Linked DNA regions of Homo sapiens. The protein of the gene in region 1 purifies or fractionates together with the protein of each later gene. This does not show direct contact. Each region holds a gene or a part of one and is shown in the gene's direction. Other genes may lie near its edges. The genes, in order: CLEC2B and ASPHD2.

Region 1 (10,928 bases):
ACTCTGTCCAAAAAAAAAAAATTCACTGATGTGATGCAGTGGCCATTCAATCTTTGCTGTATTCACAACTCACTGAAGTGTATGCATCTTACCAATGTCTCCAATGTACTTGCTCCTTCTTTCTCATCTAGTTCAATTTGTATACTGTCATTAGCACAGTGAACAAGAGTTAAATTTTGTAGGCTGTCCAAGCAGTCCAGGTCTCTTCACTATATTATGATAGACAGTGGGACAGTTAACAGACCTGGGGCAAGAATGTAAGTGTCTACTCATGTCAGCCCTAAATAACTACCAAATATTTTTGGTACTCATTTGTTAAAAGAGATAAAAAAATAATTCTTTTGCCAAATTAATGGCCATATTTTCTGTACCTGAGCATAGGGTAATTTGCTTTAACAAGTATTCTGTATTTAAATCAGCAGCTACACTTGGAATTATTGTTTGATTGAGCTTGCAATAATCAATTGTCATCATCCAGAATCCATATAGTTTTGTCAGAGCTGCACTGGTGAATAAAATAGAGGTAAATGGATACCAGCATCCTTGTGTCTTTGAGGTATTTATGGGTGGCAATAACCTTTGTCATTCGCTCTATAATGCAGAATTATTTTGGGTTGACTATCATGTCCAGTGGAGAGGAGGGGAGCAGTTTCAGGAGCCTTGGTCTTTCTCACCGCAGTACATACCAAGCTGGCCAAGGAACCAATGTGAACTTTGTACCAATTCTTAAGTATGTGGTGTCCCATTATGTATTCAAAGACCAAAGAATGTCTACTGGGTGAGTCCTTGGGCCTACTGTGAACCAGACATAAGCAAATACTCTATTACTGGGACTCCATAAGCTTCTACTCTAACAGGAGGGTCATGATCCTTTCTTGGGAATCAATGTCAACTTACATCTGCATTCTGTAATCCTAGAAATGTATGTCCTGGATTTTTTCCCAGTTATTCAAATAAATGGCCATGAATCCTGTTGTGAACTGATTTGTGCTCCTATCCAAACACATATGCTGAAGACATAACCCCCAGTGTGACTATATTTTAAGAGAGTGTCTTTAGGAGGAACCTAAGGTTAAATAAGGTCATAAGGGTAAGGCCTTAATCTCATAAGACTGGTATACATATAAAAAGAGGGAAAGATACCCTCTCTGCACATACACAGAGAAAATGTCATGTGAGGACACAGTGAGAAGGCAGTAGTCGGCTCCAGGAAGAGAGACCTCATTGAACACTAACCTGGCTAGCACCTTGATCTTAGGCTTTGAGCCTCCAGAATGATGAAAAATAAATTTCTGTTGTTTAAGCCACCCAGCCTATGTTATTTCATTATGGTAGCTTGAGAAGCCTAATATAAGTCGCACTGGGGATGGACTGGAGAAATACTTACCATTTACTCTAGTCTTGGTGTTGAAGAGGGCTTCTTTTTAAGGATGAGTTCTCCCATTATTGGGTCCTCTGTCAGAAAACTGGCTTGGGCCAAACTAGATTAGGGTAATAGTTTATACGTTTTGAGTACATGGTTGCCCTTAGCCTACTAGTAATCCACCCTTGATTTCTTTCCCGTTGTACATGTCCAGCAAAGTCAGTGGTATACAGCTGACTGTTAAATTTTCAAGGGTTCTCGAGCCAATTGTTAAACATCATTATTTTTAAAAATTATCTAAAGTAACTTTTGCACCAACAGTAAGGTGCATAAATGTGCTTTGGTCAAGAAGTAGGCTGAGGCAGACATCCAGGCCATAGTGACTTAATGAGTTTGGAGTGCAGGCATATAACTCCACTTGTTATATAACCTGTTTGTGTAAGCTCATACTTGGCTCAAATCCACTATTGTTTGGAAAAGGTATAACTGCCCTGCTGATGCTGTACAGGCGCTCTTGGGCTTGCCTTGGCTCAGCATGGCGTGGCATGGCATGACATGGCTCGCACTGGTGCCCAGAAAGAGAGTAGCACTATTGACCCTTGTAAGGGAGAGCCAGTCGCCTTGAAGGCAGGCAGAGGGGAACCAGGAACGAGCTTGTGCCCAGAGGGAAAGAGTTAAGCTGCTAATCCTGACAGAGCTGGCCTTGCAGGCCAGGGCGTGCTGCTGCAGGCGTGGCGGCGGCAGGAGTCCCAGAGCCAGAGCAGACAGCGGAGATAAAGGCAGACAGTGTGAGAGAGTCGCTGTTGGTAAATAAAACTACATTTCACCTGCTTAGGGCCCCCAAGTGTTCTTTCAGCTATCGCCCATCCACCCACTCCCCTCAGACCTCAGCATGGGCTGGAACCTAACCTGGGTCATGACATTTGGAGTCATTGTGGCCCTAATGCCAAGCTAATAAAATAAATACTTAGAACTCATCAATTTGTGATGATTTTTAGAAGATTTTGCTATTATCCATGCATGAAATTATTAACATCTGTTACATCCGTATAGTGAAAATAATACGTAATGCTGTACTACTGCATATTTATTTCCAACTCTGTGTGTTCAGTGATGTCACCTGGGTACCTTGAAATCAGCAATGGTGGGAATAATTACATCACGGAAATCAGCTGGTGTTACAAACCAGAGCTTGTTATGTGTGTGTTTTTCTCTGTTCCACCAGTTGTTAAAGGACAGCACAGAAGTGGAAGCACCCTTTTTGGCTCTCTATATTACTTCTGTGAACATTGAGCTCTATCTGACATTGCTATGGCTCTATATGTCAGTAATCCTGGCTGCTATTGCAATTTGACCCTCATTACTATAATTGGCCCCAGCTTGTTTCAGAGTGGCACTCTGACACTTGGCGTTTCCTACTTCAAACCCTGTCCCAATACTCTCTCTGAATTCAGTTCTGTGGGAACATCTCCCACTGTAATCTTTGGCATGTAGAGAAGAACTATGCTAAGCTTCTCAGTGATGTTTATGTAGGACTTAAGTTCTTCCACCAGCGCCTTCCTTACTGCTTTGGTAAATAAGGTGCCCATTATATCATCCCATAGAACATAGTCAGTTGGTGGGTTTCCTGTCCTTATCTAGTTTATCCACTGTAGCATGCCCACTTCTCTAAGCATTTTTATCTTTTCTTCAGCTACCTGCCATGGGAATTCTGGAATGTTACTCTACTCAGCGTGAGCCATTGCTTTCTCCAATCTTCTTGGAGTTATTTCAGCAGTATGTCAGCACTGTTCACAGTATTTTTCCAAGTTATTAAATTCTGTATTGCAACTGAATGCCCTAATGTTGATAAAATCTCCCTTATCCAGCTTTATGTTTCTCTCATGATCTAGCACCCTCAGAATCCAATCCCATTGTGTACACTCCAAGCTGTTGTTATTATATATTGGTTAGGTCCAAATTCATTCTGAGTATAGCCCTTTCTCTCCCTTATAAGCTTAGCACATAACCTTAGTTATTGGCCTTATGACCAATAACTAAGAAAGGCAAGTAAGGGAGGGATTCCTGTAAGGAGGGTGTGAAGGGCACAATATTTTCTTTAAGGAAAAAGGCATGACCTCGACAAGGGAGAACATGTAACTTTGTTAGGATTAGAGAGTCCAACGTTTAGAAGCTTCTAGATTTTTAAAATTTTTGAGAAAAAAAATTGTGAAAAGTCACTATACAAATGATGGAAAGTATTTTTAATACATTTATCTAAAAATGGAATTTTTCTATATTATGTTGCAACCCATTTTACTTATTTATATACACATTTTTATGTGTATGTTTCTCTACATATATATTTACATATATATAAAATCTTAAAAATCACCATAAGGAAACAAATAAATCCATAAAAATGGGAAAAATATTTAAATAGGTCATTGAAAAAAGATATATGAGTTACCAATACGCACGTGAGTAAATGCTCAATATAACATCAGAGATGTACAAATTAAAATCACATTTAGATTCTACTACACGCCTACTAGAATGGTTAAATTGAAAAAGATTGGGCATATCTAATATTGCTATTTATGTGGAGCAAATAGAACCATCCAATATTCATGTTGGGAATGGCACAACTTTTTGGAAAAAAATACATTTATAAAATAAAACATACATTTTCTATGTAACCTAGCAGTTTCACATCCAGGTATTTCTTCAAAAGATTAAAAAACGTGTCAATAGAAAAACTTTTGCATAAATGTTTATTTTGACCTTATGATATCCAAGAAGTGGAAAAAGCTCAATGTCATAATGGATACATTTTATTATAAAATAGATAAAAATATTTTATGTCTGTACAATGAAATACTACTCAGTAATAAAAAGAAATTAACTGCTGATCTGTGCAAAAACATGGATAAAACTCAAAAACATTATGCTCAGTGAAAGACATCAGACTTACAAGAATTGCCAACTGTATCATTCTGCTTAACAGGAATTTCTAAAACCAGCAAAGCTCATGTTTATTGACAGTAAGTTGGCTGCTGCCTGGCTTCAGGGGTGAGGATGAACTGCAAAGCAACAGCGGGGAACATTTCCCTGTGTTGAAAATGTTTTATATCTTAACTGTTGTATCTTGACTGTTTTCCTTTTTGGAACAAAACTAAATTTCACTCAACCATACTTGAGTAATCTCTATATTTTTCTATACATGCTTTTCTAATAGTTCTTTGGATACAATCTTTTGTTAACAACAAAGGTAGAATATATTCATTTCCTCATGAATTTTCTGTCTTTTTTTTCTGTCCAAAAATGAAAAGAGCAATTTTGTTATCTGTCCTTTCCTTCTGCCCAGAAATGATTAAACCTGTATTTCTTATTCTCTTCATATTTTCTTTGTTTTAATTCCTTTGTACTACAGTTTCTTCTCTATTCTCATTTGCTTTTCCTCTTCAAGTTTCTCTCTCAGAACAAATGCAGTGTTAATCCCGAAGCCGCTTGCGGGACACTGGCTTCTTCTCCTCAGTTTCCTCCCTAATATATTTGTTGAGGGGTAATACAAAATCACTGGGAAACTGATTAGAGCAGATTTGAAGACAAAATTGTGGCCTGGTAACTTAGCAAAAGCATAATGGTGTCATCTTGTATGCTGATGATAACGTTCTGGGCACTTTGTTACTTTCGTTTTCTTTTTTCCCTCTGTGTGTCTTTGTGTGTGTTTGTGTGTGTGCTCACACCCACACGTGTGACTTTGCACGCATTTGTCTTTGAGAGAGAGATAATAGTTTTTGTTTTTCTTTCAGTAGCCAAAGTTTAAACCATTGCTTTTTCTTTGATTCTATCGCTTTTAAGGTGATCTTTCTTAACACAGGATAAGAAAGCAGTAATGTCCTAAAGAATGCTGTTGAATTAATTAGTATCAGCCTCTCCTACAGTTCTGGAAGGATACGTGGTTAAGTACCACTCCTGGATGAATCAGAAAAACAGCCACTTGAGCAATTTCGTGTTCTGTGGTTCAGATGAGAATCCCAGTTGAGAAAGTAAGAAAATATGTGTTTATTCTTCAGCTTTAAATTGTTATATCACAAACTTCCTTCCTCCTTGGCAAGCTTTCTTTTTTGACGAGAAGAAAATTGTAATAAACAACAGTATGACTAATAGATAGTCACATGGTTACTTCCAGTTTGCAAAATGCTATTTATACTTTGAGTTACTCTTCAAAAGTGGTATACCTCTAGTTTGGAGCTGTGCTGTAAAAACAAGAGTAACATTTTTATATTAAAGTTAAATAAAGTTACAACTTTGAAGAGAGTTTCTGCAAGACATGACACAAAGCTGCTAGCAGAAAATCAAAACGCTGATTAAAAGAAGCACGGTAAGAACATTTTTGTTTGTTTAGAATGACCGTTATTTATTGAAATTGTGATGCAGAATGTTAAAGCCTTCGAGAAAAGAATTAAATTTTGTGGTTTCTTTTGTGAAACTAGAAAATTCCTTCTTATAACAAGATTGAGATTTGCATATGACTGTTTTGTCCTAATAAATTCAGACTTACTTTACATTATTTGAATTACAATGGAGAAGGATTAACCATGACTTAAAACTGCTCAAGATTTAGTTTCATTTTTACTAAGTATTTTATAAAACAAATACTTGAGAAGATGATAGATATGATCCAGATACTCATACAGTTCTCAGAATGCATACATAATATGATAAATTTAGCCAATAGTTCTAATATTTTTAAAGATTGCTTTATTGGATGGTGTAAAGATACTCCGGGCTTTAGGAGTACTTAACGGAAAGAATATATCCCTTTCCTACTCTTACTAAGGAATTGCTAGTACTCCGATATCCATGGAGATGTCTTTACCAACCCTAAGAAGGATAAGGAAAGAAAATGTTCTAAAAAATACACTATGAAACAACCTGGTAACATTGGATTTATTAAATAGCAAGTTCGGAATATATAAGATCCAAGCTACATCTTTGAGATTTCAACAGGGTTTATTTATGTCAAAATATTTGAAAGAGAAAAGGCTGAAACTAAATGCATTCAATACAACGATCTATGATTTAGAGATTTAGGGACTGTGATGAGCTTTAAGCATTTCCCGTTTAACTAAATGTCAACCTACCAGCGTATGCTACGGTCAAAAAAATTATTGCTGTGGTACAATAGAATGCACACTTTATCCTTCCTCCCGTATTTTAACCGGTTTTATAATTCTGCCTAAAGTTAGATAAAACAGGTTTGCGGGGAATGAGATCAATATTTGATGGTAGCATAAAATATCATTTTAATCAAAAGTTTTAAGAAGGCCTTCCAGCCACTAGTAAAACCAGTGTTATTTTCTACTTTCAATCAATTGTATAAATTTATACATTTGTATATAAATACATTATATAATACAATATTATATATCATATTACATATGAATATATTTTAAAAGTTACTGAATAATATATTCAGTATAATATTGTATATATTATAGATACATATATATCTGAAATTATGAACATCGTTTTAATAGCGGTAATTTAGGGCAGTGTGATATAATTCAGTCAGTTTTTATATACATTTTAACAAATATTTTATTTGCTCTGCTTATCAGTATTTTATGATTTTTTTCTATAGCTATTAGCCAAGAAAAATAATATTCTGTTTGATTTTAAATGCATTGGTCACTCTGCATCTTTCTTATCTTTCCTTAGAGAGCAGAATCAAACAGAAAACAGTTGAGTCACTGAAACTTTTCTATGGGGAAAACAATTGCAGTCCTTAACTGTTTAGATTATACATTTAAATATAGAACTATTTTAGTTACACTGTTAATTAAATCCATTGTTCTCGAACTGTCTGGGGAAGTGTCCTTTTAAGCATAGCCTCATCAAACGTTAAGAAGGCTCAACAACTTTGAAATTCATGTTTCGATATCAGCTTCATCGTGGGAGATCACAATTTTTTAATTTGTTTGAAAGGCAGCTATGCTAACCACATTCTACCAATGCCACTAATTTTTCTGATAACTCATGTAAATAATTACAGCCTCCTAAATAAGTATTGAGAATTCAGTAACAATGAAAAGATTCTGGGAAATTAAAAACAACTGAAAACAACTTATGCTGAGTGTAAAAAGCTAGATTTCAGGGTTCACGATATAGATTAAGTAGAGAATGAACACATAATAGGTTTAAATTTGTACCTACATATTCAGACATGCAATAAATGTTGAATTCATTAGTTATTTAAATAAAATTAAATGTTACTTCAAGTCTCCATCCCACTGAATGGACAGGACAGTTTACTTACTTTCTGTCATTTGGTGGTATTGAGAGTGAGAGATTTCTTCCAAGGTTATATGAAGTTTCCCAGGTTGTATAAGACACCAAAGTGTTATAATGGTCTCCATTCATCAGTTTCCACTGATTACACCTGAGAAGACCATGTTCCAATATAAATGACCTCTTCGGGTCTAGCTCTGCTATTTTGTGCTGAACTCATAACAAAAGCCACACTGTTTCTTTGCCACATTTAAAGTACGATCATCTTTTTTGAAGCTGGGGTCATCTGTACGTAAAATCTACCAACTCTGTATACACCACCAAGTCCTTATACTCTAATACCTTGCCAACTTTGCAATGGAAAGGGCTCCTATTTTCCGCTGTATCTGCAAATTGTCATTTCTCATATTGTCAGGATGTGCATTGCCCTTCTCTCTACCTGTTAGCTCGAAGTTATTTCCTCTTTTTAAAATCCCTTCACAATTTTCAGAAACATTACTTCAATAAGCTAGATTTTTTTTTAATTGAAAAGGCCATTGATTTAAGCAGCTTAGGGTTTTCTTTTCAACAGTCATTCTGGAAGAAAGAATATCAAAATGGTCTGACTACCTCCTTCAAATAACAGATATGAAATTGACTCAAAAAATACTTCCACTTGCTGCAAATGTAAATAATCTTTACACTCTTAACACACACAAAATAATTAAAATATTTAAAAACAGGACAACTATAACACAAGAAAAAAATAATAGCAAAAGTTACCTTTTATTTACTTCCTGTTGTAACTATACTTTCTAAAAACACAACACACATATGCTCTTTAAAAAAAAATAGAAGTGGTACTAGTTAATGGATGAAGAGTATAGGATCAAATGGGGGTAAGAAAATACAATTACATGCCACAAAGGTTTGATCAAGATTTTGAAATCATGATATCTCTAACATCTATATTTTTACATTATGCCAATTCATGGGGAGAAAAACGGAATGACATACTGACATATTTACTTGATTCATGGCATTGAAAACAGAGAAAAAACTTCCTGTCTTTTCGATACCTGAGGTTTAAAGAAAATTAATAAATAATTCATGATATTAATAAGGTTATATATGAAAGATAAGAAACCTCATCAGAAAGAGCTTGATTTTTTAACACTTCTTTTTTCTACTAATTTGGGGTTTGGTTTGTTCTTGCTCTTACAAATCCTTTAAGTTCATCATTAGGTTATTTATCTGAAGTCTTTTTACCTTTTTTTAAAGGCATTTATTACTATAAACTTCCTTCTTTGTACTGCTTTTCTGCATTCCACAGATTTTAGTTTATTGTGCTTCCATTTTCATTTGTTTCAAGAAATTTTTAAAATTTTCTTAATTTCAACATTGACTCTTTGGTCGTTAAGGAGCACATTATTTAATTTTCATGTTTGTGCAGTTTCTGAGGTTTCTCAAGTTATTGACTTCTAGTTTCATCCCATTGTGGTCAGAAAAGATACTTGATTAGATTTCTACTTTTTTTAATTTATTGAGACTTGTTTTTTGGCCTACAATGTGGTCTGTTCTGGAGAATGCTCCATGTACTGATAAAAATAATGAGTATTCTGCAGCAGTGCTTCTGTACGTGTCAGTTGGATATATTTGGTAAAGTGTGCAGTATAACTCCAATATTCCTTGTTGATTTCCTGTTTAGATTATCTGTCCATTACTCAGGGTGAGGAGTTAAAGTCCCCCAATATTATTGCATTGCAGTCTATCTCTCCCTTTAGATCAATGAATGTTTGCTTTATATACTTGGGAGATCTGGTGTTGGGTCCATAGATTTTTAGAACTGTCATATCCTCTTGCTGAATTGACCTCTTTAGCATTATATAGTAACCTTTGTCTCTTTTTAAAGTAGTCTTTTAAAGTTTTGTAATCTATTTTATCTGATATAAGTATAGCTGCTCCGGCTTTTTTGGTTTCTATTTGCATGGAATATCTTTGTTCATCCCCTTCACTTTCATTCTCTGTGTGTCTTTATAGGTGAAGCAGATTTCCTGTAGGCTGCATACAGTTAGGGTTTTCTCTTTACCAAGTCAGCCACTTTAACTTTATGCTTTTTTTTTTTTTTTTTTTTTGAGAGAGTCTTGCTTTATTGCCCAGGCTGGAGTGGAGTGGCATGATCTCAGATCACTGCAGCCTCCAACTCCTGGATTCAAGCGACTCTCCTGCCTCAGCCTCCTGAGTAGCCAGGATCACAGGCATACACCACCACACCAAGCTAAGTTTTGTATTTTTAGTAGAAATGTGGTTTCGTTATGTTGGACAGGCTAGTCTTGAGCTCCTGACCTCAAATGATCTGCCTGCCTTGGCCTCCCAAAATTCTGGGATTACAGGCGTGAGCCACTGCACCCGGCCTGCACTTTATGTCTTTTAATTGGAGAGTTGAGTTCATTTAAATTCCATGTTATTGTTAAGTAAGGATTTTCTGGGGCTGTTTTGTTGCTTGTTTTATGGTTGTTTTTAAATTTCTCTCTTTTTTCTTTTCTTACTGTCATTCTTTGGGGTTATATAATTTTCTCTGGTGGTATATATTAATTAGTTGCTTTTTATTTTTAATGACTCTACTATAGGTTTTGCATTGTGATTACTATGAGGCTTATAAAAAATCTTATAGATATAACAAGTTATTTTAAAGAGATAACAACTTATATCACAAAGAATAGCAACAAAGGAAAAAAACACTTTTACTCCACCCTCACACATTTTTAATTTAGTTTTCCCAATTCACATATTTTTATTGCTTACCTCTTAACTGGTTTCTGCAGTTATCATTGTTCTTGATAGATTTATCTTCCAGTCTTCATTACTAGGGATATGAGAAGATTGTGCACCACAATTACAGTATTAGAGTATTCTGGGTTTGTGCATACACTTAATTTTATCAGTGTATTTTAGATATTCAGCTGTTTTCTGTTCGTGTGTTTTTTTCTTTTTGGTTGAAGAACTCCCTTTAGCATTTCTTATAAGATATGTCTGGTGGTGGTGAATTCTCTCAGTTTTTGTTTGTCTGGGAAACATTGTCTCTTCTTCATATTTGAAGGTCAGCTTTGCAGGATATGGTATTCTTAGATGGCAGGGTTTTTTTTTTTTTTCAGCACTTAAAAAATGTCATCACTTTTCTCTTGGTCTGTATGGTTTCCACTGAGACGTCTATCATCAGATAAATTGGAGCTCCTTTAAATATTATTTGCTTCTCTTCTCTTGCTGATTTTAGGATCCTCTCTTTTTCCTTGACCTTTGAGAGTTTGAT
Region 2 (10,145 bases), on another chromosome or scaffold:
TTTGAAAGGTTTGCCTTTATGTATTGTTTTAAAACTTCAGAATGACATCTGGGGAAGGGCATTTGAGGACTGATGTGGTAGAATTTCAAAGAGGTGTGAGTAGGAAGTGATGGTAGCAAGGAAAATCTGGGGTTTGCTTTCTGTAGATTAACACTTGTTGTTCATCTGTATGATATGCATGCATGTGTGTGTGTGTGTGTGTGTGTGTAAAACATGCCCACGCTGGCTCACACTGTGGCCTGTGGCCTGTCATTCCTTTCTCAGCCCAGCTAGGTACTTGCCAGAAAAAGTAGGCCCTCCATGTTCCTGTAGATAGCAGGAAACCTTCTTGGAAGACGTCCCACTGTGGCGTGGCTTGTTCTCCACGGCCAAGGCGAGCTCCCTGGTTGGGTTTTCTCAGCGTTTCCTTCTTTACACTATCATGCCCACATTAATATCCACCCAGGAAGGAAACAAAGGTGTGTCGGATTTATGTGACCTTGTGTGTTGACAGAGAGGGAGTCCAGAGAATGAGGTCAGAAGCAGGATAAGCCTGGTGCGTACCTGGTGGCCACACCTCTGCTGGTTACCTGGCTGAAGGTAGAGGCACCTGCAGTTCCAGAACCGTGCTCTTGAAATGCCAATGCTTGCTTTTCTTCTGCCTTCTGCCTGAGCTGTGACTGATGGAATTGTCCCTGTGGACCACTGAAGACCCAGCCACTGCTCCTCACTAACACAGCCCATTTGTTCGAGACATATTTGCTGAGCCCTGCTGTGAGCTACTTCTAGAGGTGGCATCACCTAGTCCCGACTTCATATGGGACCACAGGACAGCTTCAGGCCCACCCCCCACTCAGCATCGTACACAATGCTGGGATATTCCAGATGCACTGCCACAAACTTCCAGAAAACCACCTCTGAAACTCACCAGGCAGATGTTACCAGGGAGGCAGATACTTCATGAAAATGCATGAATATGTTCAGCAAATTCTAGCTAAAGAAGCACAGTTAGACTCTTGTTTTTCTTTTCTGCATGTCATCAGATTTCTAGGTGGTCTAGCCGGGTGGTAACAGTAGATCAGCTCATGTTCCCCTTGCCCACCCTGAGTGCCCGGTTGCCAGCCGCCTGAAGTGGGGGCCACTGGTGGACACAGCCCTTTCTCTACCCTCCTTCCTGCCTCTTTCAGGGCTCGGTAGGGACAGAGCAGCAAAGCTTGAGCCATAGAGGAGCATATGGGACTATCTGAGGCCATGTGTGGGACCTGTCACTGTCCTCAAGAGCCACTGGAATGATCTGTTTAGGGAAGAATTGAGCTCTTCTGCCAACTAAGCTGGTTTGTGGGCAACAGGCAGGAATGGGGGCAGGAGCAGAATGAAGGGGAGGCGGAGAACAAGAAGCAGGGGGGTGTCAAGCCAGCAGGCCAGGCCATTTTTCTATCGCACCGTGGCACGTGGCGATGAATCATTTAGTGGCCCAGAGAAAGGGGAGCTTCTTTCTGAAACCCCGGGGTGGCTGTCCCTGCAGAGAACTGCCCATTCCTAAAGGCCTTCGCCACCTGAACCAGCCAGTAGGGGCACACGCCAAAGGAAAACGTAGCCTCTGAGTCCCTCCATCTGGGCGTCTTTACAGCCCTGACTCCCCCAGCTGCTGTTAACCATAGTGGGAAATCATGGCTTCTGTCAGGATGAGCAGTCTCAGCTGATTTAATGAAATGTACTATTGAGAGTTGAAACATATTAGGGTCCTCTTAGAGGGACAGAACTAATAGGATATATATATACACACAGATATATACACACATACATATATATACATATATATACACACACACATATATATACATATATATAGATACACACATACATATATATACATACATATATATACATACATATATACACATACATATATACACATACATATATACACATACATATATATACATACATATATATACACACATATATACATATATATATACACACATATATATACATATATATATACACATACATATATATATATACACATACATACATACACACACACACACACATATATATATAAAGGGGAGTTTATTAAGTATTAACCCACATGATCACAAGGTCCCACAATAGGCTGTCTGCAAACTGAGGAGCAAGGAAAGCCAGTCAGTTTCCAAAGCTGAAGAACCTGGAGTCCGATGTTTGAGGGCAGGAAGCTTCGAGCACTGGAGAAAGATACAGGCTGGGAGGCTAGGCCAGTCTCACTTTTTTATGTTTTTCTGCCTGCTTTATATTTGCTGGAAGCTGATTAGATTGTGCCTGCCAGATTAAGGGTGGATCTGCCTTCCCCAGCCCACTGACTCAGATGTTAATCTCTTTTGGCAACACCCACATAGACACACCCAGGATTAATACTTTGTATCCCTCAATCTAATCAAGTTGAAACTCAGTATTAACTATCAGACATGTTAACTACAAGAAAATCAGCAATCAGGCCAGGCACAGTGGCTCAAGCCTGTAATCCCAGCACTTTGGGAGGCCGAGTCAGGTGGATCTCTTGAGGCTAGAAGTTCGAGACCAGCCTGGCCAACATGGTGAAGCCCCATCTCTACTAAAAATACAAAAATTAGCTGGGCACGGTAGTGCACACTTGTAATCCCAGCTACTCGGGAGGCTGAGGCAGGAGAATTGCTTGAACCCAAGAGGCAGAGGCTGCAGTGAGCTGAGATCATGGCACTGCACTCCAGCCTGGGCGACAGAGCACGATTCTGTCTCAAAAAAAATAATAATAAATAAAGAAAAATCGAAAACTCCACAATCACTTTAATTCCTCTGTTAATAGTATAACAACTAGCATTTATATCATCATGTCCAGTTTTATAACAGCCTGTTCTTTGGAGTCAGGCTGACTCAGCAACACTAAATGGTAACTTTTTAGCAGGTCATTTAACTTCTTAGTTACCCCATCTGGAAAGTGGGTGAAGTGATACCTGTTAAGTGTGTATTTAGCACAAAGCTGAGTAGGAAGACACAGTAGGTCTTCAGTTATTGGTAACAAGGATAGAAGTCCCATAGCAGCCCTGGAAGGTTCAGTATGCTAATGTCCCCTCTTTACAGGTGAGGGTATGGCTCAGAGAGGCTGAGTGACTTGCCCAAAGTCACACAGCACATAAGAGTCACAACCAGTCGTCTGTCCCCAAGTCCTCCGTCCTTCTGTCTCCTCCATGTGGCCTCTTTATTTGAATTATTACTGTGAACGTACTTCCTGGAACCATTATTTCTGGTTCAAAGAATACATTAAAATACTCTGGCTGCTGGAAGGAAAGCTATTTCATTTTTATGCTAAAGGACATTAAATCAGAGGGGAATGCCAACTGGCCCAGGGTCATTGTGGTCACAGTGAGTCACTGAAGACAGATGAGACCACCACCCATCCCAGCTCCTCTTCCAGGACTCTGCTTCCCCCTGGGTGGGCCTTCCTGAGAGCTGTTGGGCTGACCCAACCCCTTCTGAAATCATTAGATGGCCACGGTGGCCCCTTCTTTTCTGGACATCAAGGTAGTGATGGGGGCCAAGTGTTTCTGCAGACCCTTGTGTTGGAAAGGGCGACTGAGGGTCACACATGGCAGTGTTCCAACCGGACCCCACTGGCCGGTTGAAGCATACGGCTTATTTTTTATTTTTTATTTTTATTTTTGAGACAGAGTCTCACTCTGTTGCCCAGGCTGGAGTGCAGTGGTGCGATTCGCCCAGGCTGGAGTGCGGTGATGCAATCTCGGCTCACTGCAACCTTCGCCTCCTGGGTTCAAGCAATTCTCATGCCTCAGCCTCCCGAGTAGCTGGGATTACAGGCGTCTGCCACCATGCCTGGCTCATTTTGGATAATTAGTAGAGAGAGGGTTTCACCATGTTTGAGACCAGGCTGGTCTCGAACTCTTGGCCTCACGCGATCTGCCCACCCCTCAGCCTCCCAAAGTGCTGGGATTACAGGTGTGAGCCACTGTGCCCAGCCAAGCATACGGCTTCTTACAAAGCTGCCAGTCTATTTCCTCTTGAACCTAAGCCATTACCTTAGAAGTGTCCTCCAGTTTCCCAGAATGAGGGCAGACGAAGAGCACGCCATTCTCCAGCCTCAAAACGGATTAAAAGGCTAGAACCCAAGGAGGAGAACACTGTGTGAGCCTTTGATTTTTTAATCGCAACTGAGATAGTCCTAGAGGGGAGACTACAGTAAACACAGTTACTGGGTAAGGCAAGGTTCTAAACCCAACCTCCCTGGATTTCTGGGGGTCCCCTGGTTAGGCTTCAGAGTGTAGTGCAAATGTCAGTCTGTGACTTTCATAAAAGGAATCCATGACCCAGAATAGATGAAGCCAATGAAGGAATGAATTTTTGCCAAGAGTGCAGTGAAGATCTAGATGGTGGCTTATAAACAACAAAAATGTAGAACTCACAGTTCTGAGGCTGGAAGCCCAAGATCAAGGTGCCAGCAGATTTGGCGTCTGGTGAAGGCCTGCTTCTTGTTCATAAATGACACCTTCTCACTGTGACTTCACATGGTGAAAGGAGGTGGCCAGGAGCAGTGGCTCTTGCCTGTAATCCCAACACTTTGGGAGGCCAAGGTGGGAGGATAGCTTGAGGCCAGGAGTTCGAGACCAGCCCGGTCAACATAGCAAGACCCCATCTTTACAAAAAAAAGTTTAAATTAGCTGGGCATGATGGTGCACACCTATAGTCTCAGCTACTCAAGAGGGTGAGGCTGGAGCATCTCTAGAGCCTAGGAGGTGAAGGCTGCAGTGAACTATGGTGGAGCCACTGCATTTCAGCCTGGGCAACAGAACAAGACCTTGTATCTAAAAAAAAAAAAAAAAAAAAAAGATGTCAGGCCAGGTGCTGTGGCTCATGCCTGTAATCCCAGCACTTTGGGAGGCTGAGGCAAGCAAATCTCTTGAGGTCAGGAGTTCGAGATCAGCTTGGCCAACATGGTGGAACCCCATTTCTATTAAAAATACAAAAATTCGGCCAGGTGCAGTGGCTCACGCCTGTAATCCCAGCACTTTGGGAGGCTGAGGCGGGTGGACACGAGGTCAGGAGTTCAAGACCCGCCTGGCCAAGATGGTGAAACCCCATCTCTACTAAAAATACAAAAATTAGCCTGGCACAGTGGCAGGTGCCTGTAATCCCAGCTACTCGGGAGGCTGAGGCAGGAGAATCGCTTGAACCCAGGTGGCAGAGGTTCCAGTGAGCCAGGATCGCGCCACTGCACTCCAGCCTGGGCGACAGAGTGAGACTCTGTCTCAAACAAAACAAACAAAAAAATTAGCCGGGTGAGGTGGTGGGTGCCTGTAAGCTACTCCAGTGCCTCCCAGCTACTCCGGAGGCTGAGGTAGGAGTATCATTTGAACCTGGGAGGTGGAGGTTGCGGTGAGCCGAGATCACACCACTGCATTCCAGCCTGGGCAACAGAGAGAGACTCCATTTCAAAAAAAAAAAAAAAAAAAGGGAAAAGAAAAAAAGATGCAAAAGGAGGTAAAGAAGCTCCCTTGGGCCTGTTTTATAAGGATGCTGCTCCCATTAGGACCCCACCTTCATGATCTGATCACTTTCCAAAGGCCCCACCTCCTAACACCATCACCTTGGGGTCAGGTTTCAACATGGGAATTTGCAGGGACACAAGCCCACAAGCCTTCAGACCATAGCACGGGCTCCAGAGGTGTGAGGCAGGTCAGGTGCTTTAGAAGTCAAAAACTCTCAGTAAGGCAAATCACCCCCTATCTCCTGGCCTTCCCTGAATCTTGCCTGCCTTCACTCTCCTTTCTCTGGTTTTCCTACAAGGTCTGAAAACTCCAAATGGCTGTGAGCTGGTGGTGGGGGGAGAGCCCCAGTGCTGGGCAGAAGGGCGCTGCCTTCTCTTTGATGACTCTTTCCTGCATGCTGCGTTCCATGAAGGTGAGTGGCTGCCTTTCCCACTTCCTTTTTTTCAATGAATAGACTTTTATTTTTTTAGAGAAGTTTTAGGTTTCCAGAAAAATCAGGCAGAAAGTACCAAGGAGGCCCCTTCATATCACCCCATAACACATATACACACACAGTATTGATGCGTTATTATTACCTAAAGTTCATGGTTGACATTAAGGTTCACTCTTGGTGTTGTCCATCCATTCTGTGGGTTTCGCCAAATGGATAATGACACGGACCTACCATGACAGTATCATACAGAATAGTTTCACTGCCGTAAAAATTCCCACTTAAAGATCCCTCCATCTCCCCATTTCCTTTTGTCCACCCTGCTCAGAAGCCCATGAAGCCAGGTTTATGCTCTCAGTGAGAGAGGAGGTGGTCCGATCCGAGCCGAGGGACAGGATGGGGTCCCTGCCCCGAAGCTGAGCACGTAGGGTCCAGCCCTGCCTGGATCCTGGGTCCTGACTCCAGGGTGGTTTGAACCTGTCCTCTCACCCCTCCTTCCCCCCCAGGTTCAGCAGAGGATGGCCCACGGGTGGTTTTCATGGTGGATTTGTGGCATCCAAACGTCGCAGCGGCCGAACGGCAGGCTCTTGATTTCATCTTTGCTCCGGGACGATGAGAGTATTTCCCATGCTGGAGTCGGCGAGAAGGGCCGAGGCGGGGCCTGGGCAGACTGTGGTCCGGTCCAGTCCCTACCGGTGTTGTTTCCATGCTCAGAAACCTGCCTCAGCGGAAAGCTCTTATTTGGGATTTTATATCATGTCGGGTCCCTCTTTCCCTTGGTTATTGTAAATGGAAACTTTTCGGCTTGTATTTCCTTAGATTTTTTTTTTTTCCTTCCAATCATTTGCTTCAGAGACTCCTTTCTGGCCTAACAGCGCATTCCTTTGATTGGTCCTTGAGTGACCAGAGACTTAGTGCCCTTGTAAGTCTGTCTTCTGTTGCTACTTGTTTTTTTCAGTGCTCTGAAATAGAGTAACTAAATGGTTATTTGTCTGAATATAATAATGTAAAACTTCTTGTGGTCATCTTAAAAAAAAAAAAAAAAAACTAAAAACTGCAAACCAGAGAGCTAGAGAACTTGGCCTCTGATGCTGGCACACTGGGGACCCTTCAGCCACCTGACGGCAGGGGGACAGTCTGCAGCCCCCACACCTGACTGGCTTCAGTAGCCAGGTGGAGGGGCTGCCAGACACAGTCAGGGTGGCACACAGTGTCCAGGCCCAGGGATACTGTCACCATCGCTCACCTCATTCTAAACCTTGTCAGGTCCCTGATGGCAAAAGCATTGGGCCAGTAGGACTGGAGGCTACTCTTTAAACATGGCTTTCCTGCAAAGCTGAAGCTGGTGTCCCCCAGCACCAAGCTGCGGCTCACACAGATCAGCCACGGAACGTGTGATCCGCTTACCTCACTGCCTACAGAAGCCCTACTGCCAAACTGGGCCTGGAAAATTCCCAGTTTTAGGTGTTTTGAGTCCACAGTGATGAACGTTAAGGCCACCAGGTTGGCTGATAGGAGCTGTAGGGGGATAGGACCGCGCTCACCCAGCGACATTTGGGGAAAGCCTTTCTCTGGCAAAACTGGAATAATAGATCTGACCAAAGTTTCTGTTTTGCTTTGGAGTTCTGTTGCCTATGTTTTTTTTTTTTTCATTTATTTGTCTGTACATAAATGTTCAAACACTAGACTTGGAGATAGTGGAAGAGTTGGCCCTGTGTCTTTGTCATGGCACAAAGGTGTGCACTGCGTGACAATGACCCAAGCCAGTGTGTGCTAGTGAGGAGACAGAGAAGACCTACATGCCCAGAGGACCCGTGGCCGTTGTGCTGGTTTTCTGGTCTCCTGTGAAGAACATGTGGATCTCTTCCCGAAGGAAAAGGTCCCAGGAGACCAGTTTGAGGCACTCACTCTAGAAATAGCCTGTGTTAGCTGATGTGTGAAAGCGTAGCCGGCCAGCCACACTAGAGATGCCTTTTCTGAATAATGTATTATGAGCAGTGTCAGATTTATAAAGCCGAGGAGTGGTTTGGAATATACAGCTGGTCGCAGGTGCAGGTCCAGTGTTTAGATCCAAATGGAAAACAGCAGCTTCTAAGAGGTACAACTGTTGGAAGAAAACACAGTTGAAATGCACCAGGCAGGTACTAGCAAGTGTGCAAAGAGCACGTCTACATTTGAGTAAAATGTCTACACAGATATTTGTCAGTGATGAGAATGCAGGAAAAGGCAGACATTTCAAACATACCTGAAGTCTTTTTACTCATTATCTTGTTAAAGAATCACTGAGGTGCATGATTTCTACACATCGTGACTGCTCTGCTCTGCGTTTACAAAACCAACAGCCCGCGCAGGTACCTAGCTACCTGCATTCATGTGACATGTCTGGGGAACAGAAGATAAATAAAGGATCTTGCTGAAAACCAGAGTGAAGTGGTGAGGTCATCTGTTGTAAAGAAAGACTTAGGCCAGGCTCGGTGGCTCACGCCTGTAATCCTAGCACTTTGGGAAGCTGAGCGGGGAGGATTGCTTGAGCCAAGGAGTTTGAGACCAGCCTGAGTAATATAGTGAGGCGTTGTCTCTACCAAACAAACAAACTAGCTGAGTGTGGTGGTGCACACCTGTAGTCCCAGCTATTTGAGAGGCTGAGGTGGGAGGATCACTTGAACCTGGGAGGCGGGGGCTGCAGTGAGCCTAGGTCGCGCCAGTGCACTCCAGCCAAGACGACAGAACAAGACCCTGTCCAAAAAAAAAGACTTGCTAGGCAGAAGGGGGCAAGTGACTTTGAGGCTCTTGTGTTTTGAGTGATGTCACAGAGACAGGCGGGTCACTAGAATTGATCGTGGATAGTGAATGAAGCAAAATGTCCCAAAGCAATGGGACTAGTGGGGTGGGGACAAGAGCACATCTAGGATATGTTAAGGAGCAATAGATGTCTAACTGGGCAAAGAAGAACAAGGACCCTGGCTTCAGAAAAGCTGAGGATTTAGGACTCCGTGCCAGGAGTTTGCACCCTCGGGACCTTGGGCAAGTCCCTTAGCCTCTCATAGCCTCAGTTTCTCCTCTGTGGGTATGTGCAGTATCTGGCACATGAAGGGCACTCAACAACCTTGTTTCCCTTTCTGCCACAGCTGAGTAGAGAAACAGGTGAAGAGGAAGGCCGCCAAATGGAAGAGATGGGAAAACACATCGGGACAGCAGTGGGTGTGGCCAGAGAAGCCAGTGGCTACTTTCAATTGCCTGTGTCTAATCACAGAGGAAGAAACATGTCCCTCAGTAGCTGTGTTTTTCATGTTTTTCCCTTTAGAAGAGAGGGAGACAGGGGGGTCTCCCAGCCAGGAGCCCTAGAAGCAGCCGGGCTGCCGCATGTTTCCACCTGCAAGCGAGGTTCCAGCCAGCTGTCCGGGCTGGGCTGCCACAACAAGCGGAAGGGAAGAGCGCCACTCACCTGGGATCGCGATGTTTCTCACCCTCCTCAAGTGTGCATTGCCAGCTAGGCATTGCTAAGCTAATTTACGTGTTGTAGCTCTGGAGGCTCAAGGTGAGAAAGGGGAGCCAGCCGGCTGCAAATGGGAATCCTGCCTTCCACCCGAGACAGGCTGGACTGGCCTCAAGCTCCCTCTGTTCCCATGTACTCAAGGCCAGACCAATTACTATTTGTAGAAGGTCACACCCCAGGTCTTCTGATCCCAAACCCTTTCTCCCAGGCACCTGTTCATCAGCCCCTAGAGTCACCCAGATTGTCTGGGTTCTGTCCTTGGTGACAGCGATTAAACTTGTAACACTGAGTGCTCCGTAGCATACTGTGGGGGAGAGGAGTGATCCTGGTGTGCTGGTCCTTGACTGTGGCTGCACGATGCAGTCACCCGGGAACTTGTCGGAAACCCCAAAGCACACACCCCACTCCCAAAGCATCTTTTTTCATTGTTCCGAGAGTGGGGTCCAGGCACGGGTCTTTGTTTTAAACTCATTTCCGGTCATGATTCTAACGTGTAGCTCAGGCTGAGGGGGTCGCTGCTGTGAGTAGCAAGAATGATAAGGCCTTTGAAACCATTCAGCCTGGACATTAAAGTCTGAGCTATGGCCCTGTGTAACACCGGGCAGGCCACCTAAGCTTGGTCTCTAGAGGACAGTCACTGTTTTTTGTTATCTGTTTTTGTTTTTTTGAGACAGAGTCTCCTCTGTTGCCCAGGCTGGAGTGCAGTGGCGCAATCTCG

The links.
Region 2: the proteins of CLEC2B (region 1) and ASPHD2 purify together in Homo sapiens (co-immunoprecipitation; 2 studies listed by BioGRID and IntAct, with this or other methods). This does not show direct contact.

Annotation. Positions count from the first base shown.
Region 1 is NC_000012.12:9,864,006-9,874,933, reverse strand, and holds the start of CLEC2B (C-type lectin domain family 2 member B), read left to right. Parts: upstream 1-5,579; 5' UTR 5,580-5,729; intron 5,730-10,928. UniProt on the Homo sapiens protein: Membrane-bound protein expressed on myeloid cells which acts as a ligand to stimulate the activating receptor NKp80/KLRF1, expressed on the surface of natural killer (NK) cells.
Region 2 is NC_000022.11:26,436,660-26,446,804, forward strand, and holds the end of ASPHD2 (aspartate beta-hydroxylase domain-containing protein 2), read left to right. Parts: intron 1-5,799; coding exon 5,800-5,913; intron 5,914-6,437; coding exon 6,438-6,547; 3' UTR 6,548-8,022; coding exon of another isoform or gene 8,023-8,035; 3' UTR 8,036-8,356; downstream 8,357-10,145. UniProt on the Homo sapiens protein: May function as 2-oxoglutarate-dependent dioxygenase.